Regions from separate parts of the Homo sapiens genome. Here all the other regions are linked to region 1. The links come from fine-mapping of genetic effects on gene expression. A gene starts in region 1. Each other region holds a variant in brackets. All regions are shown on one strand. Distances are from middle to middle. Region 1 holds the start of MAP7 (microtubule associated protein 7). Region 2 overlaps MAP7 (microtubule associated protein 7). Region 3 overlaps MAP7 (microtubule associated protein 7).

The links. PIP is the estimated chance that this variant, and not a neighbour inherited with it, causes the effect.
Region 2: its variant is the best candidate, but not a certain one, in a credible set for the expression of MAP7 in esophagus muscle (GTEx, PIP 0.82).
Region 3: its variant is the best candidate, but not a certain one, in a credible set for the expression of MAP7 in whole blood (TOPMed, PIP 0.53).

The regions. Positions count from the first base shown.
Region 1 is chr6:136,544,938-136,556,007 of GRCh38, reverse strand. MAP7 (microtubule associated protein 7) reads left to right here and starts at 5,586. Exons shown (of 18, transcript NM_003980.6): 1 at 5,586-5,666. The coding sequence starts at 5,600. MAP7-AS1 (MAP7 antisense RNA 1) reads left to right here and starts at 3,503. Exons shown (of 1, transcript NR_186370.1): 1 at 3,503-5,285. It also overlaps the pseudogene RN7SKP299. RefSeq lists silencers at 5,285-5,634, 5,675-5,854, 5,865-5,914 and enhancers at 5,136-5,673, 6,212-6,750.
Region 2 is chr6:136,447,923-136,458,992 of GRCh38, reverse strand. The region is part of intron 1 of MAP7 (microtubule associated protein 7); the gene reads left to right. Among named protein-coding and RNA genes, the nearest start is that of MAP7, 97 kb to the left of the region's middle. The variant T/C (reference allele first, on the strand shown) is at 5,966.
Region 3 is chr6:136,525,294-136,534,828 of GRCh38, reverse strand. The region is part of intron 1 of MAP7 (microtubule associated protein 7); the gene reads left to right. Among named protein-coding and RNA genes, the nearest start is that of MAP7, 20 kb to the left of the region's middle. RefSeq lists an enhancer at 8,253-9,063. The variant A/G (reference allele first, on the strand shown) is at 4,785.

The sequences.
Region 1 (11,070 bases):
TCATGATTTCACTCATAAACAACAGTCTTTGACAAAGCAGAAGACATCTTTATTTTGAAAACATTCTCACTAATGTTTTCTGATTGATTGATCGAGACAGGTTCTCACTCTGTTGCCTAGACTGGAATGCAGTGGTACGATCACAGCTCATTGCAGCCTTGTCCCCTTAGGCTCAAGCAATCCTGTCATGTCAGCCTACAGAGTAGCTGGGACTACAGAGGCACACCACCACAACCAGCTAATTTTTAAATTTTTAGTAGAGGTGGGATCTCACTGTGTTATCTAGGCTGGTCTTGAACTCCTGGCCTCAAGTGATCCTCCTGCCTTGGCCTTCCAAAGTGCTGGGCTTATAGGTGTGAACCACTGCTTCTGGCCTCTTTTTTAACATCCTAATTTGGAGGACAGAGTTGCCTCTGGTATCCTGTGTGGATATTCTGAAATAAGTGAGGTATAAATTCAATGATATGCCATTTGGCTCATACTGAAACACAGAGTAAGCCGTTTATTAAGCCACAGTTCATCTTCTCAATTCTAATGGTGAAGTGCTTCTTTTGACTGTATATAGGATCCAGCTACCCACCATAAACCAAATCTTCAAGGATACAATCTTTCCTTGGTACCTTCCTCTTACCCTGTCTTTGTGAGCAGATGATCCTCTGTCCCTACAGGGTTCTAACACACTCCCAGGCCAACATCATTAGCCATTTGTGAGAATTTTGGGTCTCAGGCACAAAAGAAGACAGTTCCATTATGGAAGACTCCATTATGGAAAGGTTTGCATTTGAAACGCTTTTAGGATCAATCTAGGCCAGTGATTCTCAACTCAGCTTCGCATTAAAATGACTTGGATGCTTTTTCAAAAATATTGATGCCACCACCTTGGGACAACTGAGTTGTTGTTGTTATTTGTTTTTTCTTGGGACAGAGTCTCTGTCACCCAGGCTAGAATGCAGTGGCACTGTCATAGCTCACTGCATTCTTGACCTCCTGGGCTCAAGTAGTCCTCCCACCTCAGCATCCCAAGTAGCTGGGACTACAGGCATGCACCACCATGTCTGGCTAATTTTTAAATTTTTTGTAGAGACAAGGTCTTACTATGTTCAGCTCACTCTGGTCTCGAACTTTTAGGCTCAAGTGATCATCCTGCCTCAACCTCCCAAAGTGTTGGGATTACAGGCATGAGCCACTGTGTCCAGCCGGAAAACTGTTTTTACTGGTCTGGGGTTGGGCCCAGATACCCTTTTTAAAAATTAGTTTCACAGGTGTTTTAACATGATCAAGCTTCACCTCCTTATTTCAGGTAACAGCTAGAGAGGGAAATGGAGAGCCCCTTTCTATAGAGGGAATAGCAAGATGGTTAACGTTCATCATTTGTTTAGCGTAGCAGGAGGCTACACACCCAGGCCTGAAGCAAAACTGTAACTTGACTTGTGACCTGGAACAACTGAATTAGTTTCTCCAAGTCTCAGCTTCCTCATCTGTGAAATGGAGGAAATGATGTACCTTCCACATAGGTCTGCTATAAGATGTAAATAAGAAAATGGAGGCTGGGCGCAGTGGCTTGTGCCTGTAATCCCAGCACTTTGGGAGGCCGAGGTGGGTGAATCACTTGAGGCCAGGAGTTCAAGATCAGCCTGGCCTACACAGCAAAACCCTGTCTCTACTAAAATTACAAAAACTAGCCAGGCGTGGTGGCGCACGCCTATAATCCCATCTACTCGGGCGGCTGAGGTACGAGAATTGCTTGAACCCAGGAGGTGAATGTTGCAGTGAGCCGAGATCACGCCATTGCAATCCAGCCTGGGCGACAGAGCAAGACTCTGTCTCAAAAAGGAAAAGACAATGCAGGAGAGGTGCTCAGCACAATGCTTAGCATACAGTAAACACTGAGATATGCTTGCTATTGCCATCACTTATCCTTCATTCAAAAGTATTTATTAAATACTGGGTACTACATATTGTGGTGCACCAACAAGATACAGTTCTTTCCCCTGAAGTTTCTTGTCAAGGAATCAAGACAAAGCAGAAACAACAGTGGTGCAGTCAGTGCTATAGTTACATTTACTGTCAGAAGGGGTCAAGGAAAGCTTTCCAGAGGAGTGAAGGTGCAGAGCTGAGCCTGGAAAGATGGTTTGAAACAGAACAGTTAATGCAGGGGTGGTGGCAGTGTTATAAAAGAAACAAAACAGGAATTTGCTGGGAGAAGTAGATCTAATGTTTCCTTTTAACTGCATTTTGATCTCTTTCTTCTGTCATTGGATACTTGGTTTCGTTCATCCCTAGGCCACCACATAAAAAAGCTTGGCATTGAGGAATTATTAACCCATTTGAATGCCCACTGTGTGTGAGGCACGGTAGCAACACAAAAGATATATACCATGCCTACCAAGTTCAGAATGCAGGCAGTGCACATGATGTCATCAAGAACATCTGCAACTCGTGAACAAATAAAATAACTGATAGTTCTAGACTTTATGGACACCCTGTAGAGAAGTAGAGGACAAAGACCCTACTACCAAAAATGTGCATCAGATTGAGAAGGCAAATTTGCAATAACTCATGCCTAGTCTATTTTAACAGCTGGACAAGTATCAAGCCCAGCAAGCCCTGGCCAGGTCCAAAGGACAGGCATGCTGGGAGCCAGGGCAGGAAGAACAGGCTTCATGGAGGAAGTAGACCTTAACCTGGGCCTCAAAGGGAAAGTATTATTAAATACGTCAGGATGAAGGACATCACTTCGGGCAGAGCAGCTTCAAGCACAAAGACTAGAAAGCAGGGATTTGGAAGGTGTTCTGGAGAATGAACAACTCCATGGGCTAGAAATATGAGTTACAGAGGTGAAAAGTGGAAATGGGTAGTAGAGAGCTCAGGGCCCAATTAGGGGGTGGTGGTGGTGATGGTGAGGAGGTGAAGTTAATATTTACTTATATAGGAACGGGGAATCTATTAAAGGTTTTTGAGCAAGGGAGAGGTATGTGTAAAGTGATTGTATATTGCAAGATTAATGTGGTTTGGAACATATTAAATTAACAGCAGGGTATCTTGATAGAATTGTGCAGGGACCATTCAGAATGTATTAGTGGAAGTCAGGAGTGAGGTTAAGGGTATATATTCTGGAGTTGGGAGTCACCAGGATCCGGGATGGAAGTAATAGTAAATGAGGGCTGTGAGAGACAGTAAAGATAAAAAGCCTGTGGTTTACAATTAGGGGATGGTAAAAATATTGGAGGATTAGAAGGGAGGAAGAATCTGAGTCAACAAAGACGAAAGGACTGCTACAGAGGAAGGAGAAAAACCAAGCCAATGGTAGACCAAGAGCAAGGTGATTAGAGGATCAAGTGCTGCAGAAACTCTAGGGGAATGATGGATTTAAAAATAAGTAATTTGATTTGTATACATAAGCAAGAAAAACTATTAATATATAGCTTTTTTTGAAAAATAACGGCACCAAAATCCACATTTATTTTTATTACCTTTGGTGAACAAAACATACGACAATAGATTCTGGAGGGTGGGACGTTAAAGGAAGACATTTTAAGAATCAAAGAGTCTTAGCTGTGTTTATTGGGGTAGAGCCCTTGGGTGCAGAAACATTTAGGGATTCGGGAGAAAAAAGGGATGATGTTTGAAGGAGGCAGGAGGGAAGTGGACGGTGTCAGGAGGTTCAGCTCCTCCCCTGGAATGGGGAACCCTGAAGATTTGAAATGGATGTGGGAGCTCCAGACAGATGGCTTCCATGTTCCAAGTAAAGTACAACTTGAAGTACGACGTGATGGTGTTTGACATTTAACAGATGTCATCTGTTCTCTGCAGAGTCACTCAGCAGCCTCCCCTGTTGCAGACACCTCCTTAGGTTTGGAACACACTGTCTATACAGGGCCTAAGTGCAGGATTTTGGTGTGTTCCTTATTTCATTTATTTTTGTTTAACTTGTGGCAGATAAATACAGGTTATCAAAAGAATGGGACAATGAGTAAGCACACACCAAACTAAACAAAACAAAACAAATAGAAACATCACAAGTCTTGAATTTTTTTTTTTTTTTTTTTTTTTTTTTTTTTTTTTTTGGTCAAAGAAAGAACTCATTGGTTGATTTAAGTCGGTGGTAAATCAGAAAGTTGAAAATAAATCACCCTCCTTCTCCAGGGTTCTTCCGGATAGTTCAACTCTAAATTCAGCTGAGAGTATTTCTGATGCTCAAAGAAAAGTGTCTTAAACTCTGATGTTTTAATGTAGTTAAAAAAAACACAAAAAATCTTTGCTGAGGCCCAAGCTGAGGTCAAAAACTACCTCTAGCCATCTGGTGCTTTATTTTTATTGATTAGAAGTCTCTGATAAGACTGATTTGAATGTGATTTAGGAATATCACATTCTAAATGGTCAGTTTGCCTATTCCATTATAGAAATGACACTACGGGAAAATTCATCATCACAGACCACAGCAGAAGTGTTCTTTAGTTAAAGCTCTACCTAGTCATCCAGAAAGCCAGTAAGTAAACCAAATAAAAATAGTTCACTGGGCTCAGAGTGGCAAGTTTTGCATGCAAAGATCGTGAAAATTGTAACCCTAACAATAAATCCAATACTGTTCTCGACTCTCTTGTGTGTCCAGTGCTGCTGCAGTCCTTGGAAGGCTTTTAAACTGTTCAGAGCTTGCTGGTTATCTTCAGCCAAGCCAGAGAGTGGGAGTGCAGTGCATTTTAGTGTAACCATGCGGAACTGGTCGCTCCTTGATTTTGTGCCGTATGTTTCCATTTGTGTAGGCTTTTTCCCCCCTCAGTATTTTGTTGCTTATCCTTTAGAGCGAAATTGGTTTTTCCTCGGCCAATAATCTGTTTCTTTAAAAAAAGAAAAATTCGTTACCTATTGCCTTTTTTTCTGGTCTTCCTGAGCAAGCCAGAAGTCACAAGGTCGTTTACTAAACGGAAACTAAGAAAAAGAAAAGCCACATCAGCCGGCACAAGCCTCTCTAACTTGTGTGCCCTGAGGCTCATCAGATGCGAAGTCCTGGCGACAAGATAGGGTCGCCCGCAGTGGCTTCCTAAAGCGCAGATCCAGGCCGGCTCCCAGCGTGGAATCCGACCCATGTACTTCGCCTCTCCACGTGGCATCAGATGCTCTGCCGGCTGTCACCGTGAACTCCAGCCCTCGCGGAGCCGACACTGACCTGGCTACTTCAGAGTTCGGAGGGAAATAGCGTCTCCGTACCCTCGCCCCACCTGGGCTGCTCCTCGGACCGCCGCTCGTCCCAGACTCCAGGAGGCGCCACCAGGCCTCGCTGACCCCGCTCCATATCTCCGGGAGCCCTCAGCTGGTCGGCCGCGGCGACCGGAAGCTCCGGACTGAGGTACTGGTTCCGCCCGCCGCTCTTCCAGCCGAGACTCGGCAGCGGCGGTCGGAGCGGCTGCCACGCCGCACCTGCCCGCGAGGGGGCGCGCCAGGCCCAGGCCGCAGCCGACTGCCGCGCTCTCTGTCCCCGCCCTCCGCCATCCCCGGACTGCGCTCACCTGTCTGGGCCGCTGGCCTGGGAGGCGGGGGCCGGCGGGAGCCAAGCCGAGGAAAGGGCGGAGCGGCTCTCCGGGCGCGTCATCGGAGCACCATGGCGGAGCTAGGAGCTGGCGGCGACGGCCACAGGGGCGGCGACGGCGCAGTGCGAAGCGAAACAGGTGACCGCACAGCGGGGATAGTGGGGGTCCCGTCGGGCAGGGGACGGCGAGCGGGGCCGGCGGGCTGGCACCGAAATCACCCGGCGCCGGCAGCCCCCTCCCCGCCCGCGCGGCCGCGGCCCGGAACAACCGGCCCTGCGCGCCGCGCACCCTGCTCCGAGAGCGCCTTCCCCCGCCCTTCGCCGCCGCGGCTCGGCCAGCCCGGCTCGGCCCCGGCCGGGGTTGCGGCCGCCCTCGGGCGCTCCACCGCGACTTTCCCGCAACAGGTGGAGGCGAGCCGGGGGAGGAAACGGAGAGACCCCGGCCGCTGCCCTCCCCGCCGCGGCCTCGGGTCTAATTCAGTTGAATGGGAAATCGTATCCCCCAGACCAAACCAGTGGCCAGAGAGTCGTCGGCCAGGTGCGACTGGCAGGACGAGCAGTTTCTGGGCACCTCCTCCCGCCTTCCCTGGTCGCCCCGGGTGCCGGGGGCTCCTCAGCGGGGTCGGTGTGGGGCAGGACCGCGGGGTGAGCGGCCCGCCCCCCAATCTGGTGCCCGCAGTGGCGACGACCGTCGTCCGAGGGGACCGAGCTCGGGAGGGCCGGGGCCCAGTGCAGCACGGTGGGGGTTTGCGAGTGCGGGCTTGACGGGATCAGACTTTCGTTGACTTGTCGGAGTTCTCAGAGTTTTTTGTTTTTAGTCTGTGCAGGAGCCCAAAGGAGGATTGTTGGCTCTGCAGCCCGGGATTTGGTGGTCAGGCCTCTGTGTTGAGGATACCCCTCCCCCACAACCTCCAGGGGCACACTTAGGGACAGGGGATCACGTCCCCAAGACCAGCAGCAAGGCTTCCCAAGACCAGCAGCAAGGCTTCCCAACCCCGCCCATCTCTCCATAGTATGAAGCCGATTTTTCTCCCTCGTGATTTTTTTTTCTCCAGAGGCTATCTTGCAAATCCGTCCCTCTCCACTGGTTCCCTCTTCTATTCTTGGCCAGTAAGCTGTTTCTATATCTTCCTACACTTGGGGATGGGGGCAGTGAGGCAGTTTCTTACTTTAAAAAGAAATTCAATTCTTAGACTCTCCAATTGCAAGCTGTTTTCCACTTCCATACGGTCACAATCGGAAGCATTTGTTTCCTAAATGTAAGAATCACTGTCTCCCCACCATCAAGTATGCTTATTTTAACGTGAAAGGTCCAGAGAGCTCTGAAACAGTATTTGCAAATTATGTATCTGCTATTGCTAGGAAGAGGTTGGGTACGTAAAGTCTAATGATTTAATCCCTTCAGCCAAGATACCTGAGGTTAAGACTGACAAAGTATCTTGAACTTGTTTAAGTCATGCTCCTTCCTGTAGGGAGTTTGTCTTAATGTGTTCGCAAGATTGGTAGATCATTATTTTGTTTTGGGGTGGAGAAGAGATGCCTTTGTAATTGCTTTCGGGAATTTGATGAGCTAGACGCTGGGACGGGGCTCCCCCAAGTGAGGGCCCCGGGAGAGGAGCATCCTCATTTGTAAATATACGGCATGATTTTCGTTCCTAACCCTGACCCAGTAACTGCATGTGAAACAACATTGTTCTAGCGAGCTAAGTGTTAGTTTGTGCTCAAAAATAAACTTTCTAGAATCTGCACGTGAACAACTTGTTCAGACATAAGTGAACTGACTACAAACTGTAGGATATTCAGTGCCTGAGCATGTTAAGGAATAGGCCGTGCTTCCAACAATTAATATACAAATCAACCATGTGCCTGTCAGTGTAATATTTTCTTTTATTAAAAAGGGAGTTAAATTGGCTGTTATCTCCTTCATAGAAAACATTTCTTCCACACTTTTGCCTAAAAACTTCATTTTCCAAAGGACATTTTTTATATATGGTCTTGAATAATTATACTTTATAATTTCACTGAAAACTTAATTCTGGCCCCGCATCTCTTTCCTATTTTTCTACCCCAAGATTACTATTAATGTTTTTAGTGTTCAGAAGCATTTGTGTCAGCAGGTGCCAAAGAAAGAAGGAAGGTGTAAATGTATTTTTTTGAATCTAGGTGGTAGTTATTTTGAGAGAACAAGTGAGATTGTTTGAATTTCAACAACTTAAGTTATTCCATATATTTAAAACACATGACCTATATCTGAATATGAGACTTTAATTTAGCACTTCATTCTGGTGAACATATTTCACATTATACACATCCAAATACTGCAAGTCTCATTTTTTTAAACAATCAGAAGTTTGTATGGAATTGTTGGGGGGGTGGGGGGGGGTGGTGGTGGTGGGTGGCCGTGGACAGAGAAACTATTACCATCAAGAGTTGAAAATTGCCACCTTAAATGGCAACATTTCTTGAGGGATTAATTTTATTTCTTTTTAGAACTCATTATTATGAGGTAGAGTCCACTCTTAAATAACTCTTAGTTTTTGGGTCTCTATACAAAGACTGGTCTAATTTTAGGGCACTTTAGATGAGAATATCAGGTTATTATAAAAATGATACCTGTAATGTGTTCAGAATTATATGTGTGAGTGTGTGTGTGTGTATATGTGTATCAAAGATGAATTGACAGTGGTGGCGTGTGGCCTATGAAATGAGACCGTTCTTAAGCATATTGAAAGCTATTATATAAACCCAACATTTAAAAACCCTATTTCTGTGGGTATATATTCTCAAAGTTAGTCAAATCACATTCTTTGTGGCGAAAACATTTATTTTTCTTGAGGATGAAAAGTTCTTCCAATATAATATTTTTCTTGCCAACAGCCAAAGTTAAGAGCTGGGAAAAAAAAAATTGCCTTGGAAACAAGTTTAAGACATCACCACTAGAGGATGTCAAGTCCTTTTTCAGCCTTTTTTGAGTAGTCGACCTACGATGGGTGATATTCACAAAACTGCCTCTACCCAAGCTTTGTATATTTAATTTTATGTTCATGTTCAAGAGCTGTGGAAAGCGAGTGTACAGCACTAATTTCCTAGTCTGATAGCCTGTTTTAAAAACCTCCTGAACTAAAAGCAAATTTAAAGCTGCTTTTGATTAATTCATGAAGCTTTCATGCACGAAGGAATAAGTTAATGCCAATAACCTGTCAATTCTGTTGATATTTTGGGAAGTGGGTCATGACTTAGAATCTGGAATTGGGCTTTTTGTCCATTTTAGCAACCTGTGTGGTGAACATGGCCTCTTTCGTGACCATCCTTTCATGAACTTTTCCAAATCAAAAAGTGATCTTGTAGGTGTCACTTAACTCTAAGGGTCCACATTAAATATCTGCAATTAAATAAGGGCTCAGACGTCAATTTGGTATTAAGCTTGTCCCCTTTGAAAGAGATGCTTCATTCACATAGCTAGATAGCTTTTCTCCCATCCTATATGGCTGTTACCTTTACATCTTGCTAAGTAGGAGGAAACGTTATTATTAGACTAGGCAATTGTGCTCAGGAGCATGCATTTATGTAATATTGATAGGCTTGTGTGAAATATTTTTACACAGTTTATTTACACTGGCATTTTCTCTAAAAAAATTCTAACATCTTTGCCTCCCAATGCATGAGAAACAATCATTTGGAAGAGTTATTTTTAAAAACTCGGGCCTCGTATTGATGTAAGAATTGAAAATATTGAGGCTTAGAATAAGAAATGTGTACCTTCTGTGTATTCAGCATTATGGTGGTTAGAAGGCTGTTGAACAAATGATCCTTGAATTTAGCAAGGAAGACAAAATTCACCAACAAACAGTTGCAGGTTATGAGGAGTTCAGTGAAGGAGGAATCACTTCCGGCTGTGGTCAGCAGGAAGAACATACTGGATACAGCACTGAAGTTAAATTTTAAAAAGTGGTGGAACTGGAGATCATTATGTTAAGTGAAATAAGCCAGGCACAGAAAGACAAACATTGCATCTTCTCACTCATTTGTAGGATCTAAAAATCAAAACAATTGAACTCATGGACAGAGAGAGTAGAAGCATGGTTACCAGAGGCTGAGAAGAGTAGTGGGGGTAGGGGGTGGGAGGTGGCAGGGAGGTGGGGATGGTTAATGGTTTGAAAAAAAAAAAGGCCAGAGGCAGTAGCTCACGCCTGTAATCTCACCACTTTGGGAGGCTGAAGCAGGCAGATCACATGAGGCCAGGAGTTTGAGACTAGCCTGGGTTACGTGGTAAAACCCCATCTCTACTAAAAATAAAAAAATTAGCCTGGTGTGGTGGCGCACGCTTATAGTTCCAGCTCTTTGGGAGGCTGAGGCAGAAGAATCACTTGAACCCAGGAGGTTGAGGTTGCAGTGAGCCAAGATTGCACCACTGCACTCCAGCCTGGGTGACAGAGCGAGACCATGTCTCAAAAAACAAAAAGTTAGAAAGAATAAGAATAGTAACAAATACTATTTGATAGCACAGCAGATTGATTATAGTCAATAACTTAATTGTACTTTTAAAAATATCTAAGAGTGTAATTGGATTGTTTGTAACACAAAGGATAAATGCTTGAGGGGATGGATACCCCATTCTCCATGATGTAATTATTTCACATTGCATGCCTGTATCAAAACATTTCATGTACCATATAAATATATATACCTACTATTTACCCACAAAAATAAAAAAAAATTAAATTTGTTTTAATTTAAAAAATAAAAAAATAAACTTTTAAAAATGGGTAAGTGGGATATAAAATTAGATGGAGGAAAGGGAGAAAAAGATGCAGGTGTGAAAAAGAGCAAAGTTTTGGTCATATTGACACATGTGTAAAGCTCAAAGAAAGTCCTAGGTCAGTTAGGAATGATTGTTCATCGAAGTCAAATTGTGGAAGGGCTGAAGGCCAAACTGAGAGGCTAGTACATTTTTCTGGGGTAGGGTAGTGGGGGAAGTGTTGAGGATTCTTGAGAATAAAGGATATTGATTAAAGCAGGAATAATCAGGTAGTTCTGTGCCCATGAATCTTGAAATATTGATTGCAAGTTCTAACAAGAGCTCAGCTGTGCCTTTAGCTAATGAAAGCAAAGTTCCTCCCTCTGGGAAAGTCATTCTCTTCCATTGATTTTTTTTTTTTTTTCTTTTACTGCTTTGGGAAGGGTGCACCTGGAGGGATGAGAATGCATGAGGAATATCTGCCTAGCCAGATTAGCCAAATCTCTGGAGATCAATGAAGGGCTAGGTCTACTCAGCTGGTCCTCATTTCAAAGTAGCAACGTGGACTTGAGGATGGACTGAAGAAGAGTTCAGCGACATACACACCAACTTTGAGATTCCTGCAGAAATCCAGGCAGTCATTAGCATGGCAATAGGAAGAGACGATTAATTTAAGGTTCTGCAGGGGCATGTGTCAAAGGATTGCAGGTAAAAAGGTGACATATGAGACTTTTCCAAGTTTGAGTTTGGCTCATTGACTTATTGGAAAATATTCATGAGGAGGACCTGTTTTGTTCTTTACCCC
Region 2 (11,070 bases), 97 kb after region 1:
GTTTGCAATTATTTTCTCCCCATTTTGTAGGTTGCCTTTTTACTCTGTTGATTTCTTTGCTGTGCAGAAGCCTTATAGTTTATGTCCTAGTGGTCTATTTATGCTTTTATTGTATGTGTTTTTGATGTCATGCTCAAGAAATCATTGCCAAGACCACTGTCATGAACCTTCTCCCTATCTTTTTTTCTAGAAGTTTTACACTTTTAGGCTTCACATTTAGGTGTTTAATCCATTTTGAGCTGATTTTTGTGTATAGGTCTAATTTCTTCCTTAAGCATGCGGATATCTAGTTTTTCCAGCATTATTTGTTAAAGAGACTGTCCTTTCCCCATTGTGTATTTTTGGCATTCTTGTTAAAGATCAGTTGACCATATATTTGTGGGCTTATTTCTGGGCTCCCTATTCTGTTCCATTTGTCTATATGTCTTTATTCCATTACCATACTGTTGGGATTACTATAGCTTTGTAATCTACTTTGAAATAGAAAAGTGTGATGCCTACAATTTTGTTCCTTCTCCTGATCATTTGACTATTCAGAGTCTTTGGGGTTCCATATGAATTATAGGACTGTTTTTCCTATTTCTGTAAAAAATGCCATTGAGATTTTGATATGGATTGAATTGAATCTGTAGATTGCTTTGGGTAGTGTGGACATGTTGACAATATTAAGTTTTCCCATCCATAACCATAGGATATCTTTCCATTTATTTGTATCTTTTAAAATTTCTTTAATCAACGTTTTATGATTTTTCAGTATACAAGTCTTTCATCACCTTGCTAAGTTTATTCCTAAGTAATTTTTGATGCTATTGTAGATAGGATTGTTTTCTTAGTTTCCCTTTTGGATAGTTTGTTGATAGTATGTAGAAATGCAACTGGTTTTTGTATGTTGATTTGGTATCCTTTAACTTCACTGAATTCCTTTATTAGTCCTAACAGTTTTTCTGTGGATTCTTAAAAGTTTTTTTTACAAATAAGATCATGTCATCTACAAACACATTTTACTTCTTCCTTTTCAGTGCTTATTTCTTTTTCTTGCCTAATTGCTCTGGTAAGGACTTCTAGCTCTGTGTTGAATAGAAGTGGTGAGAGTGGGCATCCTTGCCTTGTTCCTTATCTTAAAGGTATAGTTTTTCACTACTGAGATGATGTCAGCTGTGAGGTTTCATATATGGCCTTTATTATCTTGAGGAAATTTTCTTCTATTCCTAGTTCATTGAGAGCTTTTGTCATGAAAGGATATCAAATTTTGTCAATTTCTTTTTCTGTAGCTGTTGAGATGGTCATGTGTTTTTTTTAATCCTTCATTCTGTTACTATGGTGTGTCACATCTATTAATTTGTGTATGTTGAACCATTCTTACATCCCAGGGATAAATCTCATTTGTTCCCTTAATATACTGTTGAATTCAGATAGCTAGTATTTTGTTGAGTATTTTTGCATCTGTCTTCATCAGGGTTATTGGCCTATAGTTTGCTTGTCTTGTAGTGTCTTAGGCTATGGGGTAACGGTAACACCGCTTCGTAATTTGAGTTCAAGAGTGTTCCCTCTTCTTCAATTTCATGGAAGAGTTTGAGAAGGATTGGCATTAATTCTTTAAATGTTTGGTGGAATTCACCAGTGAAGCCATCTGGTCCTGAGCTTTTTTGGGGCAGGGGATGGGGGCGGGATTTTTTTTTTTTTTAATTCCTGATTCAATCTCTTTACTATTTAAAGGTGTGTTCAGATATTTTATTTCTTCATGATTCAATGTTAGTAGGTTCTGTATTTCTACAAATTTTTCTCCTCCTTTTAGGTTTTCCAGCTTGTTAGCATATAATTGTTTAATTGTTCATAGTAGCCTTTTATGGTCCTTTTTATTTCTGTGGCATCAGTTATAATATCTCCTGTTTCATCTCTGATTTTTTTTTGTTTGAGTTTTTTTTTAGTTTAGCTAAAGGTTTGTCAATTTTGTCTTTAAAAAAAAAACTTTGTTTCATTGAGTTTTTTTCCCCAGTGTTTTTATATTCTCCTTTTTTTTCCTGCTCTGATCATTATTACTTCCTTGCACTAGCTTTATACCCTGTTCTTCTTTTTCTTGCTCTTTGGTGGTATAATGTTTTGTTTTTATTTGAAGTATTTCTTCTTCTTCTTCTTCTTCTTCCTCTTCTTCTTCTTCTTCTTCTTCTTCCTTCTTCTTCTTCTTCTTCTTCTTCTTCTTCTTCTTCTTCTTCTTCTTCTTCTTCCTCCTCCTCCTCCTCCTCCTCCTTCTCCTCTTCCTTCTTCTCTTCTTTCTTCTCCTCTTCTTTCTTCTTCTTTCTTCTTTCTTCTTTCTTCTTTTTGAGACAGGGTATCACTCTGTTGCCCAGGCCGAAATGCTATAGCATAATCATGGACCACTGCAGCCTTGATCTCCTGGGATCAGGTGATCCTTCCACCTCAGCCTTCCAAGTAGCTGGGACCACAGGTGCATGCCACCACACCTACCTAATTTTGTTATTATTTGTAGAGACAGGGTCTCCCTATGTTTCCCAGGCTGGTCTTGAACTACTGGCCTCAAGCAATTCTCCCACCTTGGCCTTCTAAAGTGCTGGGATTACAGACATGAGCAACCATGCCTGGCCTTTTTCTTTCTTTTTAATGTAGGCATTTATAGCTATAAATTTTCCTCATAGCACTGCTTTTGCTGCATCTCGTAAGTTTTGGCATGTTGTATTTTTGTTTTCTTATGTCTCAAGATATTTTATAATTTCCCTATAGGAAAGGCAAAAAGTCTTTTTCTCTACTCATTTCAGGTTTTCCAGCTTAATCTTTCCAAAGACAGATTAACAGGAGAAAAACAAACAGAAGTTTATTAGCATGTGCATCATGTATGTACACTTGGGAGCACACAGCTATGAGTAACCTAAATGGGTGTTTAGAATTTGAGCTTAAATACTGTCTTAGACTAAAACAAAGGAGTGGAGGCTTGGGGCTTTGTGGCTGGGTAAGCAAGTTATGGGAAATTGACCAGGAAAAGTATAATAAACAGGGGTTGTTTAGTAAGGTTTTGTATGCACATTTAAGTTGATGTCTTCTCCATTGATATGTTAGGAGTTATCATATCCCTACTGAGTTAGAGGGAGATATCTCTACAAATGGAAATTTTCTATTTAAATATAAATTTCCTTTACAAAAAGAAAATTTGTGCCTTGATTTTAGAGCTTCATATTGAGTCTGCTGATTCTCAGTGGCATTTGGCTCAAAATCCATTAAATAAAGATTATTTGGGGTAACATATTCAGACCCATTTGTTGGTTGTTAAAGACCCATTCATTGGTTAAGAGTATATTGTTTAATTTCCACATATTTGTGAATTATCTTGTATTCTCTCTGCTATTGATTTCTACTTTAATCCTGTGGTGCTCAGAAAAAATACCTGGTGTCATTTCAGTCTTCTTAAATTCATTAAGACTTGTTTTGGGACATATCCTGGAACATAGCACTTCTGCTGCTCTGAGGTGAAATATTCTATATATGTCTTTTAGGTCCATTTGGTCTATCGTGTTTTTCAAGTCCCCTATTTCTTATTGATTTTCTGTCTGTTTGTTCTAGCCATTACTGAAAGTGGGGAATTCAGATTTCCTCCTACTATTGTATTGTGTTTATTGCTCTCTCCAGTTCTGTCATTGTATGCTTTATATATTTAGATGCTCAGATATTGGGTGCATATATATTTATAATTATTCTATCTTCCTGGTGAAATGACTCTTTTATCATTATATAATATTCTTTATAACACTTTTAATATTCACATATTGCTGTTTTTACCTGTCTACTACTCATATTTCTAGAGTTTTCATTGCTACATTTGGAAGCACATGTCTAATATTCCTTTTCAGAGTACACACTAGATGAAAGATGAGGGACTGTCTGACCAAGGATCCAGAAAGGGATAGTTCAACTATAGGTGAAGGTAGTTCTAAACTCATGACTATGTACTATATAGTCTTTAAGGAGTAGCATAAGTTTAAGGCAATTTTTGTCTCCTAGTGTCTCTTCTCTTGGCCAAATTTAACATCTCAAGTAGTCCTTTGGATGAAAGGTAACTGGAGATGTTTTTTATTTTGATTTTTTAGACAGAGTCTTGGCCTATCACCCAAGCAGGTGTGCAGTGGCATGATCATAGCTCTCTGTAGTCCCGAACTCCTGAGCTTAAGCCATCCTCCCATATCAGCCTCCCAAGTAGCTGTGAGTACAGGTGAGGGTCACCTCACCTGGCTAACTTTTTTTTAAGAGATGGGGTCTTGCCGTGTTGCCCAGGCTGATCTTGAACTCCTGGGCTCAAGTGGTCCTCCCGCCTCAGCCTCCCAAAATGCTGGGATTTCAGGCGTGAGCCACTGCACCTGGCTGTTTGCTATTTAAAAGACATTTTCAGGCCAGGTTCGGTGGCTCATGCCTGAAATCCCAGCACTTTGGGAGGCTAAGGCGTGAGGGTCGCTTGAGCCCAGGAGTTTGAGACCAGCCTGGGTAACATAGTAAGACCCATCTCTACCAAAAATTAGCTGGACATAGTGTCACGTGCCTGTAGTCCCAGTTACTTAGAAGGCTGGGGCGGGAGGATCGCTTGAGCCCAGGCGGTCAAGGCTACAGGGAGTTGTGATCACACCACTGGACTGCAGCCTGGGAGACAGCGTAAGACCCTGTCTCAGATAGATAGATAGATAGATAGATAGATAGATAGATAGATAGATAGATAGATCATTTAGGTAGGGTTAAGTCTTCATGAGCATTTAAATCCAAATTAGCATTTTATTCTGATGGGTTTAATAGGTCCAATGATGAATGAATTCTGATGGGTGGTAGCTGGCTCATCATTTGTGGAACTGAGTAAACCCTATTAAATATCTGTTTTTGGAGGATTTGGCAGTTTGGGAAGAGCCTCTGAGCTCTATGTTCCTCGGTAGACAAGGTACCAAGTGGTTGAAATGTAAATATGGAGATGAGGCATTGAAAAGGAACAACTTTACTGATGTCTTGCATAATTGCAAAACTAGCAAAAAAAGGAAAAAAAGCCCACCTCAGAAAGACTAATTTCTCTTGATGAACACTTAGATTTAAAATTAAGTGGTCTGTATTTGTTGATGTAAGTATCAGTCATAAACAGCTTTGGCTGAATACTATGAAGCTATTTCTTCAGTGTCCAAGCAAGCACTCAGTTGCTTTTTAAATAAAAGTTCATGTTATTTTACCAAATTATAACAGTAATATTTACCAAATTAAATCAATATTTTATCCAGTACCTCCATATCAACATAAGGAAGAGAACCAAATTAAATTATCAAAATTTGTTGGGAATCCTAATGGTAAAAATAAGCATAATTACAAAAATTTCTACCTATTTGTGTCTAATGCAGGAAGTCTCTATTCTGACATGTATTCTAATGATGAGAAAAGCTCCTCACTCGTTAGGGAAAGTAATCAGATAGCCTGACCACTGCCACAACCCTTAAAGTCACTCACTGAACATTCACTAGATTGTCCGGAAAGCGTATTATGACAAATGCAAATAAAAGAATTTAAAGACTGTCACTGTTAGCTAATTACCACTGGGACAGAATCTTAAGCAGTGCATTTGAAAATTCTGAAACAGATTGGATTTATTATAAATTAATGACATAGGATGTTCATTAATTATTAAGCTTTGTTGAAATACACTGAATGTTGTACACAGGTTTTACAGCCAATGGCTGCCATCAGAATGTTTTGAAATTATACCCACGAGAAAAATAGAAAGGTTTTTATCTCCATTCATTTCCAGTGGCTTGTTAGTTTTAGCATGGGGGAAAACATAACTTTTCCCGAGTTCTCAGTTGGCAAGAACACTTGTGGCAAACTTCAGATTAACAAAAGAAAACTAACAGAAGTTTATTAACATATATACTTCACGTATTCATGAGAGATGCCTAGGGAATACCAACTGAATCTCCAGAGTACAGGCATACCT[T/C]GTAGATACTTTGGGTTCAGTTCCAGACCACTGCAATGAAGTGAATTTCACAAGGCAGTCACACTAATTTTTTGGTTTCCCAGTGCATATAAAAATTATATTTACACTATACTGTAGTCTATTAAATGTGCATGATGTCTGAAAAAACAACATACATATTTTCATTACAAATAGTGGCCGGGCATGGTGGCTCATGCCTGTAATGCCAGCACTTTGGAAAGACGAGGAGGGCAGATCACTTGAGGTCAGCAGTTCGAGACCAGCCTGGCCAACATGGTGAAACCCTATCTCTACTAAAAATACAAAAATTAGCTGAGCATGGTGGTGTGCACCTGTAATCATAGCTACTCGGGAGGCTGAGGCACGACAGTCACTTGAACCTAGGAGATGGAGGTTGCAGTGAGCCGAGATCGTGCCACTGCACTCCAGCCTGGATGACAGAGCAAGACTCTGTCTCAAAAAAAAAAATTAAAAAAAAAATTATTGCTAAAAAGTGCTGATGATCATTTGAGCCTTTAGAGAGTCATAAACATTAAGACAGCAGTGAAGTTGATTGCATCAGTAGACTCTTCCTTTCATTTCTCTGCAGCATGCAATGCTGTTTGATAGCTTTTTACCTACAGTACAACTTTCAAAATTGGGGTCAGTTCCTCTCTAAGTTTGTGTAATATTCTAAATCCCTTGTCCTTTCAACAACATTCATAGTATCTTCACCAGGAGTAGCTTCCATCTTAAGAAACCATTTTCTTTGTTCATCCATAAGAAACAACTCCTCATCCATTCAAGTTTTGTTTTGTTTTGTTTTGTTTTGTTTTGTTTTGTTTTGTTTTGTTTGAGACGGAGTCTTGCTCTGTCTCCCAGGCTGGAGTTCAGTGACTTGATCTCGGCTCACTGCAACCTCTGCCTCCCAGGTTCAAGCGATTCTCCTGCCTCAGCCTCCTGAGTAGCTGGGATTACAGGCATGTGCCACCATGCCCGGCTAATTTTTGTATTTTTGTAGAGACAGTGTTTTGCCATGTTGGCCAGGCTGGTCTTGAACCCCTGATCTCATGATCTGCCCACCTCAGCCTCCCAAAGTGCTGGGATTACAGGCGTGAGCCACTGCACCTGGCCCCATTCACATTTTATCATGAGATTGCAGCAATTCAGTATTCAGATTTTCCTTCTAATTCTAGTTCTCTTGCTGTTTCTGCAACAGCTGCAGTTACTAACCTCCACTGAAGTCTTGATCCCCTCAATCATCCATGAGGTTTGGAATCATCTTCTCAACTCCTGTAAATGTTGACATTTTTGACCTCCTGCCATGCATCAAAAGTATTCTTAATGGCATCTAGAATGGAGAATTCTTTCCAGAAGGTTTTTAATTTACTTTGCTCGGCTCCATCAGGGGAATCACTATGGCAGCTATAGCCTTAAGAAATTTATTTCTTAAATAAGACTTGAGAGTCAGAATTACTTCTTTATCCATGGTCTGCAGGATGGGATGTTGTGATAGCAGGCGTGAAAACAACATTCATCTCCTGGTCCATCTCCATCAGATCACTTGGATGACCTGATGCATTGTCAATGAACAGTAATATTTTGAAAAGAATCTTTTCTTCTGAACAGCAGGTCTCAACAGTGGACTTAAAATATTGAGTAAACCATGCTGTCAACAGATGTGCTGTCATCCAGGCTTTCTTGTTCCTTTTATAGAGCACAGGCAGAGTAGATTTAGCAAAATACCATAAAGGGAAGTGCAATTAAAGAGATGCCTATAAATGTCTAGGAGGTGGCTTTAATACATGTCTACAGAAACAGAGGAGGCGTAGAGAAAACCTGTTATGGGGAGGTGATCAGGAAATATCTAAACAAGGGTAAGGTTTGTTGCGCAGATTTAAGTAGGTGCCTGCCCCATTGATAAGAGTTTCTAGTTTAGATTTAGAGCCATCCCTTTCTTTCTGGTACAGAGATGGAGACACCTTTACAAATGGAGATTCCCTTTATGGATGTAAATTTCTCTTACAAAAGGGTAACTTGCTTTATGTTTTCAGAGCTTTTCCAGTTTCTGCTGTTTCTCAAAATAATCCTTATGCCAAAAAGGCATATTTGGGGTACAAATTTTTGTCTCCTACAGTCATGTTTTGAGGTGGAATTCCCTGAGCCCCACCAGCAGTAACCTTCAAAAAACAGAACATTGACTTTTATAGTATTTAATGCCTCCTCTTCACAGAAATGTATCCACTTTCTTTCTTTTTTTTTTTGAGATGGAGTTTTGCTCTTGTTGCCCAGGTTGGAGTGCAATGGAGTGGTCTCAGCTCACCACAACCTCTGCCTCCCGGGTTCAGGCAGTTCTCCCGCCTCAGCCTTCCGAGTAGCTGGGATTACAGGCGTGAGCCACCATGCCTGGCTAATTTTGTATTTTTAATAAAGATGGGGTTTCTCCATGTTGGTCAGGCTGGTCTCGAACTCCCGACCTCAGGTGATCAGCCCGCCCTTCTATAAAAAGTGTGGTATATCTTAAAAAGTCCTTTTAAAGAAATGATAATTTAATATTTGAGATAGTTATTTTATTTGGAAGTACTAGATTATTTGCATTTTAATATTTTAATATTAAAATTTAAATATTTAATCAGGTAGAAATATTCCATGCTGGGAATTTTGTTTAAAAATTCATTTTAAAAAAAAATCTATGTTTATGATATTGTTAGTGGGAAATTGCTATTTAAAAACAAGTGAAGAAATCTTGGAAATAATGTTTAGATTCTAATTTGTTTTAGTTTACTTTTTCTACTTAGAATTGTGTTGGTGAAAAGGATAAAAGGCTTATACAGAAGCCAAATGGTATTTTTATTTTTATTTTTGAGACAGAGTTTTGCTCTTGTCACCCAGGCTGGCGTGCAGTGGCACAGTCTTGGCCCACTGCAGCCTCTGCCTCCCGGGTTCAAGCTACTGCCTCAGCCTTCTGAGTAGCTGGGATTACAGGCATGCACCTCCATGCTCAGCTAATTTTGCATTTTTAGTAGAGACAAGGTTTCGCCATGTTGGTCTAGGCTGGTCTCAAACTCCTGACCTCAGGTGATCTGCTTGCTTTGGCCTCCCAAAGTGCTGGGATTACAGGCATGAGCCACCGCCACCGTGCCTGGCCTCCAAATGGAGTTTAAAAAGTTGCATTTATTCAGGTTCCTTTGTTGTATTCCTTCAAGAACTGTGTTCTTCCCTCTCAGAGCCCTTATCCCAGTTGCTCATGTAAGTTCATCAGTGCAATCGTTGGCTAATGCCTTCGTCCCTATGGGCAGAGCCCCTGCATACTTCTGCCCCCCTTTAAATTAAGTTTAGCCTAAAGCTGACTCCTTACATATTTTTAGTTTTTCCTAAAGGTCTCCTGGTACATAGTGAACTGTGACCTAACTGGATCTGTAAACAGACATTAGGGAGACATAATCTCCCAGCAATCACCGAGTATCAGCCAATCACAGCAGCCAGCTGTTCAAATCATGTTCAAATAAGGCAAATGCCGGGCTGTAACCAATCGGCTGTTTCTGCACCTCATCCCCATTTTCTGTGCATCACTTTCCTTTTTATTAACATAAATCTCCAACCATATGGCAGCACGGAGTCACTCTGAACTTATTCTGGTTTGGGGAGCTGCACGATTCTCGAATTGTTCTTTGCTCAGTTAAACTCTGTTAAATTTAAATTGCCTTACATTTTTGTTTTGTTTTCGTTTTTGTTTGTTTGTTTGTTTGTTTGTTTGAAGGAGTCTTGCTCTGTGGCCCAGGCTGGAGTGTAGTGGTGCGATCTCTGCTCACTGCGAGCTCCGCCTCCTGGGTTCACGCCATTCTCCTGCCTCAGCCTCCCCAGTAGCTGGGACTACAGGCGCCCGCCACCATGCCCGGCTAATTTTTGTATTTTTAGTAGAGATGGGGTTTCACCGTGGTCTCGATCTCCTGACCTCGTGATCCGCCCGCCTCGGCCTCCCAAAGTGCTGGGATTACGGGCTTGAGCCACTGTGCCTGGCTTGCTTCTTTTTTTTTTTTTTTTTTAACACCACTGTTGTGTCCCCAGTACCTGGAACATTGTATGTAGGCATGCTTTAAGTGGGGGAACAGATGCGCTGATGGATGGGGGAAGAATTCTTCTAGTCATTCTAACAGTGCATGAGGCTTTTTCAAAGATAATAAAATATTAATTGTTTTTTTCCCCTTTCTTGGCAACTGATAGAAAAGATTGCTTTACTGTTTTCTCTTCTTTTTCATTCTGGATCTTGTATCTCTCAGGCATTGCTATAATTCCATTTTGTAGAATGGGAGTCCTTTATAAGAATTCATAGGCATTGCTAGGCACGGTGGCCACGCCTGTAATCCCAGCACTTTGGAAGGCCAAGGCGGGAAGATCACGAGATCAGGAGATCGAGACCATCCTGCCCAACATGGTGAAACCCTGTCTCTAGTAAAAATACAAAAATTAACCAGGCGTGGTGGCGGGCGCCTGTAGTCCCAGCTACTTGGGAGGCTGAGGCAGGAGAATCACTTGAACCCGGGAGGTGGAGGTTGCAGTGAGCTGAGATTGCGCCACTGCACTCCAGCCTGGACGATAAGAGCAAAAACTCCGTCTTAAAAAAAAAAAAAAATCGTAGTCATTAACCATAGCCTTTTAAAAGGCAAGACTCATGATAGAAGGATTTTTTGTTTGTTTGTTTGTTTAATAATCGTGTTGCCAAAAGGACCTTATTGCAAGTTAGGTTCATATGTAATGTTTTTCCCGCACAGACACCAGAGCATTGTTGCCTAATTCCCAGAATTGACTTATTCCTTCAGAGTCTTTAAACAGCTCAGTTCTTTTTTTTTATTTTTTGAGACAGAGTCTCGCTGTGTCGGCCAGGCTGGAGTGCAGTGGCGTGATCTCGGCTCACTGCAACCTCCACCTCTGGGATTCAAGTGATTTTCCTGCCTCAGCCTCCTAAATAGCTGGGATTACAGGCAGGTGCCACCACGCCCAGCTAATTTTTTTGTATTTTTAGTAGAGATGGGGTTTCACCATGTTGATTAGGCTGGTCTCAAACTCCTGACCTCGTGATCTGCCCGCCTCAGCCTCCCAAAGTGCTGGGATTACAGGCGTGAGCC
Region 3 (9,535 bases), 20 kb after region 1:
GTTCAGATGAACAGGCTGCTTAGTTCTCATTAAAAGGGTTCATTTGATAATGCTTTTAAGCTCACCAGTACTTGATTCTCAAAGGGTGATCATTAGTGAAAATAAAGAGGGATTTAATAAGTCTAAGATATCCTGACCCCAACTGTAGGAACATTATATTAATAGAGCATTACAGTATTGGAAAATTATCTGAGTAAATAGAATCCATCCTATTCAATGAAGATTATGATCATTGATACATAAGCCTTTGACTTTTGAATGGCATGCTTTCGTTCGCAGCATGTTGACTTGAATGTGGGAATGGAGTATCTTAATCTCTCTGAGGTCACTGACTGATAGGTTAAGTGTCAGCTGGGCTCAGCCCAAACATTAGATGTTGCTGGGAAGGTATTTTGTAACTATGATTAACATTTACAATCAGTTGACTTTAAGTAAAGGGGATTATCCTGGCTATGGGTGGGCCAAATCCAATCAGGTGAAGGCCTGGGAAAGAAGAAGAAGGAGGAAGTCTGCCTTAAGACTGTGACATGGAAATCCTGCTTGAGTTTCGAGCCTGCCAGCCTGCTGCACAGATTTCACACTTGTTTGTCCCCACAGTGGCAGCAGCCATTATTCCTTAAAATAAGTCTTTATATACAATATATTTCTCTCCAGAGAAACAACCAAAAATACTATTGGTTCTATTTCGTGGAAGAATCCTCACTGATACACTCACCCTCAAGAAGAAAATTAACAGTTTTTACCCAGAATCATACAAATCGCTTTATTTAAGAGATAAAATTTAATAATTAATCTTTCCTGATTTTTGAAGGTAAAAACAGGATATTACGCTTTCAGTAAAAAAATGGATGTCTTTTAATTTCAGGGGGGTTTAGGAGAAAGAAATGGAAAGAGTGGCAAAGTAGCAAAGGATGGTGATACGGTTTAGATATGGTTTCATGTTGAAATATGACATCCAATGTTAGAGGCAGACCTAGTGGGATATGTCTGGGCCATGGGAGCCGATCTTATGAATGGCTTGGTACTCCTCTTATGGTAATGAGTGAGTTCTCATTCTGTTCGTTCATGTGAGAGCTGGTTGTTTAAAAGAGCCCGATATCTCTCTTGCTCCATTGCCATGTGACACACCTGTTTCCCTTTCTCCTTCTGTAAACGTCCTGAGCCCTCAACAGAAGCAAATACCAGCACTGTGCTCCTTGTACAGTCTGCAGAACTCTAAGCCAAAACAAAACTTTGTAAATTATCCAGTCTCAGGTATTTATAGCAACACAAAACGGACTAACACAGATGGGATTGAGGAAAAGTCTTAAAACATTCTGAAATGAATGTTCTTCACCTGTCCGATGCTTTGCTGTCCTAAAGACTTAATGCTGTCACTATCCTTAAAATGCCCAAAAAGTCATACACTGAATTGGTTTGCTGTTCTTTAGTATCGCTCTTCATTTAGATTTCATCTCTCAAGTCACATAGCTATAGGGATCCACCTATAACAAATTGGCTCATTGAGGGGAAAACTCTCTTATTCATCTTTATCAGTAGGTTTTTTGTTGTTGTTTTAGATGGCGTTTCACTCTTGTTGCCCAGGCTGGAGTGCAATGGCCCAATCTCGGCTGACTGCAACCTCTGCCTCCTGGGTTCAAGCGATTCTCCTGCCTCAGCCTCCCGAGTAGCTGAGATTACAGGCATGCGCCACCATGCCCGGCTAATTTTGTATTTTTAGTAGAGATGGGGTTTCTCCATGTTGGTCAGGCTGGTCCCGAACTCCCGACCTCAGGTGATCCACCCGCCTTGGCCTCCCAAAGTGCTGGGATTACAGGCATGTATATCAGTAGGTTTTCATTACATTGTGGGTGAGAGAATGTGGGAAGTCTGGAAGCCGCAGGTGCGGAGATCAGAGTAGTGTGGCCCTCTTCTAACCCAAACACCTGGAGAAGGTTCAGTTGTTTCTGTGATTTAGCATTTAAGGCTAAAACCTCGGGACCATCAGTTGAATAAGTAAAATAATGAAACGCAGAGTTGCTTACAAAATGAAGCCATGCGAGTAAGTATGTGCACAGGTACAGCAAAGGAGAGGGCTTTATCTCAGCCTTGCTTTTTCCCTCTGCCTGAGTGTTCTCTCTTGGTTATATAACTCGACTTTCCATTTGCATCAAGTCATGGAATCTCAGGATCAGAAGAAGCTCTAGAGATTAAAAAAAAAAAAAATTCAACCTGTAAACAGTGCATTAATCCAACATCATCATTCCAAATCAGTGTTTGTGCACAGCTATCTTCAATGTCAAGAAACATAACTTTTTACATTCTGATAACTTAACAGTCCCTGGTCCCAGTTTTCTCTTCCAGAACTAAATTTACACTTCCACTAAAAGTGTAAATTCTTCCATATGTTAACCTTTAATTCTGTTATTTTATTCCTCTGGAGTCTTGTCTTATTTTCTTCTATGTTATGTCTCCTATGTTATGGCCTAGAATATTTATGGTAAGTCCTAGGTCACTCTCTTCTGAAAGTGTTCTCATTTATCATCCTATTTCAAATATCTTGCGAGTACCATGTAGTATGAGGACCAGTAAACAGAGAACGCTTGTCCTCCTATTAGGCACGCTGGTGTCTGCCGATTCCACTGTGACACTTAGGGTTTTTACTTCCTCAGTGCGCTGATGATGTTTAGTGAGCTTGTTGTCCAAGTGCTCGCTTTGTTTCTGGGGCAGCTTGGGTAGGTCTTCATTTTGTACCTGTCCAGTTGAACTTTTTTTACATATAAAAAGATATGTTCCTGTTTATTCTTACTGAATGGATAAGAATATAGCCTATTCAGTGGGAATAAACTGAATAGGCTGTATCCTGTCTAAGTATAGCTCATTATTTCATTCTTTGAGATCATTTTGGACCTGAGTCTATCCATCTCTTAGCTTTCTTTTTTCTATGGATATAGAGCACTTGTTCTCATATTAATCTTTAATAAAAACATAACTACCTTTCTTTGCATTGCCCACTTCTCCATCTTTCATCTGGACTATTGCAGGAGCTTGGTATTCACGTTCAAGCCTATGGATAAGTTTTTCACACTGCTAGAGGGGTGTCTGTTAAAAAAACACAAACATGATTGATTCTCATATTCCTGTTTTTACGTCTATCCCTATGACCACCATTTGATCCCTTTTCTTTACTTGGACGAAGTAGTTACATAGCTAGTCTCTGTCCCGTCTCTCTCTTTCTCACTTCAAGTTCATCCTGGCCTGTCTGGATCACACATTTAGCTATCAATACCCTTCAGTGGCTCCCCACTGCCTCTGTTTGGTGAAAACATTATGCCTTTGGCTCTGTATCCTCTCTGATGGCATGCCCCAAAGCACCCCATCTGTCATCTTTAACATGATTTTACTACTCCTAAAGCAAAGCAAGTCAAGGAACCATAGTTTCATTTTCTTTCTAATGGTGTGGCTCAACAATAAAACTAAATTAAACACTAAATTAAACTGCTCACAGACCCTCAGTGAATTAGGTAACTTACAGAAACACAGTCCGGGCATCTGTATGAATCTTCTGTTGAACCCAGCGATTGATTTCTTTCCCTCATTTGGAATCTATAAAATTGGATTTCTTAGCCTAATTATCGTGAGAAGAGAGGACAGTCTTTGCACATTTAACTTTTATCAAGTAATTCAGAAGTTCATGTAGTGCACATTAATAAAGTATTATCAATGAGAGTAATGAACAAGAGGGCTGAGAGGCATTCCATTATGTGCTACTGGGTTAAGGTTTAATGTGGCATTTCACACCTAACATTTAGGAAAGGGTTTTAAAGCTTAGTATCCACACCTTACATTTGTATAAATGAATCCCTAGCGTTTGAAATTTGTTTATGATAGAGCAGACATGGGAAAATGGACTCTGTAGGCACCATGAAGTGTTTTGCAGTGAAGATTTATAGAAATGTTGTAAAAGGCACCACAGGGACCTGGTACTTCTGGCTGATGGCATCACCGCTACTAGGGCAGTATTTACTGTTTTTCTTATATGCCTGTTAACAAAAAGTGGTCAAATAAAGAAGATCAAAGCAAATCTGCCTCTTCCTTTCAAAGGGATGATATTTCTTTGTGCAGTATTTCTTTATCCAGCCTCTTCTATGCTATGCATGATGCTGCAAGATGGCAGAATGTTGTGCCTTTATCGTCACAAAAGCCATCAGTAAGTGGCATAATTCTAGGAAACTCTGAGGCTGCCCTTTAACTTCAAGAATAGAGTGGCAAAGAACCAGCTGGGACCCTTTGTTCCTTAGTGGTTGTTTGATTCCATGTCAACCTGTGCTGGCTTTGTCATTTTCAAAATCATGCAAAGTTTTTAAGTTGCATAAAAATATTGTTAAAACTCCTGCTAGAAGTAAATTTCAGTTTATCTTGGGGAGATGCATTAAATACTTAAAAGATTGCTGAAGTCCGGTAGTTTTGAAGAATTAACCATCTCTTCGAATGTTGAAACGTGGAAAAGAATTTTGGCACTTCTGGACCCTGATGAAAAGTAAATAACTTATACATACGTGGAACTTGTAATTTACTGGTGACAGGCCATTCAATCCAGCAGTAATAATTTCTGTTTTCAGCTACAGCCATTGAATAGTACAAATTAGGCTCTTTTTTCTTTCAATAATGTTTTTGTAAAGCTCACTGGGCTTTTAGAAAGGGAAATTTTAGGTATGTTTCTCACTGGTTAAGCAGATTTCTTGGATTCATTCATGGAGTGTGCTGTTTTCCAACTTTATGGTCACACAAGTCTAGGAAGCATA[A/G]ATGTGAACAGAAAGCTGACTCTATGTGTGCGTATGTGTATGCAGGTGACTACATGTTAGTCTTTTATATAGCATTGTGACAGCTAGGCCCAAGTCATGAGCTTACTTCCCCAAAGATCAGCAAGTTTGACTCTGTTTCATATTCATCCAACTCACAGGTTGGACATAGGCCAGAGATGCCAACCAGCCAGGGTAGGAGGACAAAGAGACATAAATTTATTGTGGACCAAGCGGGTGGGGCCTGCAGTTGCTCGGGGGCCTATTGGACTGTTTTAATCATAGTAGCTGAGTGGTAATGTTTTTACCCATAAATGTGAATACATTTTGAAATTATACTGCAGAATATTTTTACGCAATATAAAGCCAATCTAGTTGTAAAATCTACCATTTTGCACTAGGCAGTGCCTCATTTCTCTCAAATTTGTACAAAGCCTCTATTAATACAACATTTATCACTTTAACAATTTAAAGAAAGTAATTGCAAAACCTTACTGATTGTTGGAGGGCTGCATGCCCATTTCCCATGGGGACTGATTTAAGCCTCTGTATCTGCATGTGACATGCAAGGATAGTTGTGCCACATCTAATTGAAAATGCTCCTTAGTGCTGGAGAAGAGTTCAGGAGGCTGGGCGCGGTGGCTTATAACCTTTAATCCCAGCACTTTGAGAAGCCAAGGTGGGTGGATCACTTGAGGTCAGGAGTCAAAGACCAGCCTGGCCAACATAGTGAAACCCCATCTCTACTAAAAATGCAAAAAAAAAATTAGCTGGGTGTGGTGGCAGATGCCTGTAATCCCAGTTACTCAGGAGGCTGAGGCAGGAGAATCACTTGAACCCGCGAGGTGGAGGTTGCAGTGAGCCAAGACTGCGACTGCACTCCAGCCTGGCGACAGCGAGACTCCATCTCAAAGAGTTCAGGAATTCAGAGTAGTGTTTATTTTACTTTGGCGGATATTTAAATTTAAGGTCTCACCATATCCCTTTCCGTATTTGCCTTTGGTTTGGATCAAAATGTAAAAGGGAATTGCGAGAAGATGGTACCCACACCTCTACAGGGATCAAGCCACAGTATTCCTGGAATTCCCCAGGAGCTAACCCCTATATCCATTAAAGATTGGGTGTGAACATTTAAGAAACTAATCTCAAATGAATTTATGTCTTAAGTGAAAAATGTGTCCTTTATAAGGGAAGGAAAAAAATCCTTTATTGTTATTATTTGATCTTGTGCTGTTTGCTTTTCTGTGACAGTGACACAGCTAGTTGATGTTGGGGTCAGGATTTACACGACAGCAGGATGAGAGCATCTTGACTCAGTGGAGATAATGTGTTAGTTATTAGAGCAGCAGCTAGCTTTGTTTGGAAGCTGTAAGCTGTATTTGGGTGACAAACATTTCTAAATGAAATTAGTCATTTGCTTAATACAGATTTTCATTTTCTTTACCAAAAGGTAGTTTCAAGTATGCTTATTTTGTATGTGGGGTTTTTTTTGTTATTATTTTGCTTTTTTGTTTTGTTATGCTTTTGCTATTGTAAATACTGACCTGACTCTCTTGAAGTAGAGGAAAGAAGCTAATGTGGATTTGAAAATATTTTCATTTCACAAATAGTATGATATTGATGTATATTACACCTGTGTTTATTGATCATCTGATTAAAGAAAAATAATAGGAAATAACAAATCATGTCTCATTCAAGAATAAAAGTTTACAAATATAGAAAATTATGGAAGTATGTTACGTTTACAATTTGTATCCATTTTTTTATTTCTTAAACAATAAGATCTTATATGCGTCCTCCCTTTCCTTCCATCTCCACATAAATTGGAGATCGATCTAGGATTCTAAAACATCTGGGTCAAACATTTGTCATCGGGAGAAGCACTGGACTAGGAGGAAGATGGTCTAAATTTTAATTGTAGACTTGCTGCCAACTAACATTTGACCTAGGCAAGGAATTTCACTTCGTGAGATTCAGCTTCCTCGCATGTAAAACGATGCTGACTCACTTGCTTTCTCAGGCCCATTCAGCTCCAAAACTCCATTCTATTTTATTCCAAAGACCCACTGCACAGATTGACACAATTTAAAATAAACTCTAAAACTGAAATTTCCTGCGTTTCTTCATGCCAGAGATCTAAATACATGTGAACTTAATTAAATCAAGCAGCCTGTGGAGGGAAAGAGTTCTTAAGATTCATTTATTTTTTTCAGCATGTGTTTGCTCACAATTTAGTACATCCCCCAGCACCATGCTGGACAATAAGAGTAGATACAAAGAAGTACTTCCTGGTAGCATTGATAGTTGAACTGGAAATACCTTGAAAATAATTACAAAGCAAAAAATGGACTAGTTACAGCAAACTATTATAAAGTATAATAATAGTTGGTATTTATTAAGCACTTCAAGTTGCTAGCACTACACGCATTTAATCCTCACCCTAATACCATAGGTAAATGATAGTCATCACCCCAATTTTACAGAGAAAACGGAGGCACTGAGAGAGTTAAGTGAATTGTCCAAAGTTACTGTTCCACGCAAGAGATTTAGAGAGGATATTGTACTTGCCTTAGACTCCCTTGGGCCCTCTTTTGGGTAAGTAGGTTTAAGTACTGAGAAAAAGTAAGGGAGTAGTTGGGGAGTGGGAGGATTGCTTTTGACTTGCTAAGCAGACTTGATTTTTATTAAAACACAAAAGCAAAAAAAATGTTTTTTCTTAATTTGGCAGTTGGCATGTTTTAATGTCATTTATTGTAAATTTTTTTTGGAGACAGCACACATTTTAAGCAGTCTAGAAGTGGAGAGTCTTAAAGTGAGATAGCTTATTTCAGGAGAAAACAATAGTCACATGATTCTGTGCTTTGAAGAAAACGATCCAAAAAAGAGCTAAAATTGGGTCAAGTGTTGAGCATTGCTCAGCACCGCTGGTAGCAACTGCCCAGAGCGGTAGGGATTGAGGGTGGGGGGTGTGCTGGGTGTAATAGAGACAGGTTTTTCTCCTTTGGAGAATTCCCCAGTATAGGTTCTGTCCTTGAAACTTGAGTTGCAGAGGAGACACTCCACGTTGTGATCTCTGGTGGGAGCCAGCATAGTTCTTCCCTTGCCTGTCTTCACCAGAGGGTTTCAGGGACATGGCACTGGTGGCCCTCATGACTGGTGCTGCCAACCCTGTTCTTATACATGCTCTGGGGTGGTAAGAATGTCAGGAAAGTAAAGTGAGCTGCTCTGTGGGTACCAGCCATGCCTTCATTCATCCAGGGGCTTGCAAACATTGTTATGATAGACAACCTGGCCCAGAAAAGAAGAAAAAGCCTTTCTTCCTCAGGCTTCTGTCTCCATACTGAGGAGTCTACTGCTGCTTGTGCAAGCAAAACTCTTTCTCCTCCCATCCTGCTGCGCTGCCGCTGAGAGGAAGAGGGAGCTGCCCAGCGGCCTCACGCTGTAACCCTCTGCTGGTGAGTTCCCAGAACCCAGCATCCTGCAAGCTGCCGCTTCTCAGCTGGGGAGATGGAGCCGCTCTGGGCCCTTCTTGATTAGGATATGTTAGGGTTGTCAGGGCAACTGTTAACGGCAGCATATCATATTTTCCCCTCTCTGCTGTGGGCTGAATATTTTACTGTGTGGTAGCAGGAAGAAGATTGGAAAAAGGTGCTGCAGCAGGAAGAAGCTGGGATCTGATTGAACAGGTTGTGCAGTGGTGGGAGGCATCAGACCCTGCGTGTCTGTAGTAGGGCTTTTCTGGAAGGAGTGTGTGTGTGTGTGTGTGTGTGCGCGCGCGTGTACGTGCATGCATGAGCCGGAGCAATCACCAGCGCATGTGCCTGTCGGGGAGTCAGTGGGAGGGGGCTGGTAGGGGAGGTGGGGAAGCTGCTGCTAGGTGAGGGGAACTGCAGGGCCTCAGTTGCCAAGTGGCTGGTACTATCTGTCAGCTGTTTGCAAACTGTTTACCCATAGGGGATCTATTACAAGTGCTCAAATGAACAGGCAGCTTAGGAACTAGCAGCTTCCTGGGAGCTGCAATTACATAAGCATATATTTTTAATATAATCACAATTAAAAAAAAAAAAAACAAGTAGCAGCGGTATGCCTGGATCAGCTACAGCTCTCCGACATGAGAGACTGAAGAAGACCAATGCAAGGCCAATTCCTCTTGGTTTATTCACCATTAATGAGGAAGACGAACAGCAAAAGAATGGAAATTCCAGAAGACCAAAAGGTATGCATTAGCTCCACCCTTTGGTCGGAGCCAGATCCAGCCCTTGTCTCCCACACTGCCTATAGAACGTTTTATAAACTGTGCTGCTCGTGCATGCTCCAGGGAGTGCTTGTGACCTCCTAGCACGGTTTGCTGGTAGTGTTTATACCCTCTGTAGGGTTGTGTATGCATGAAATGGGAAACAGTTTTTGTAGATTCGGTGTATTTCAGATCAGTTGCCTTTTTTGACTTAAGCTACTTTCTTGGCCTAGAGATGTTTAATTTTTCCCATGCTCACTTCAGCAGTGACCAGTCACTCTGTCCTCATCAAGAGGAGGAAATACTGAGTTATCAAGGTTTAAACGAACATCTCCCCACCTTCCTTAGGTGCCTCAGATAATTTTTGCTTATTTTAATGAAGTGAGTTTCTGCTTTAAAGGATGAGTTAAAGTGACTCAAGAGTGCAACCTTTTCTAGGCAGAGGGTCAAAATGTCACTTCCCTTTCTATACTAAAATGTCAAGAGTAAAGAGGAGCACAGCAAACATTGAGGGCGAATG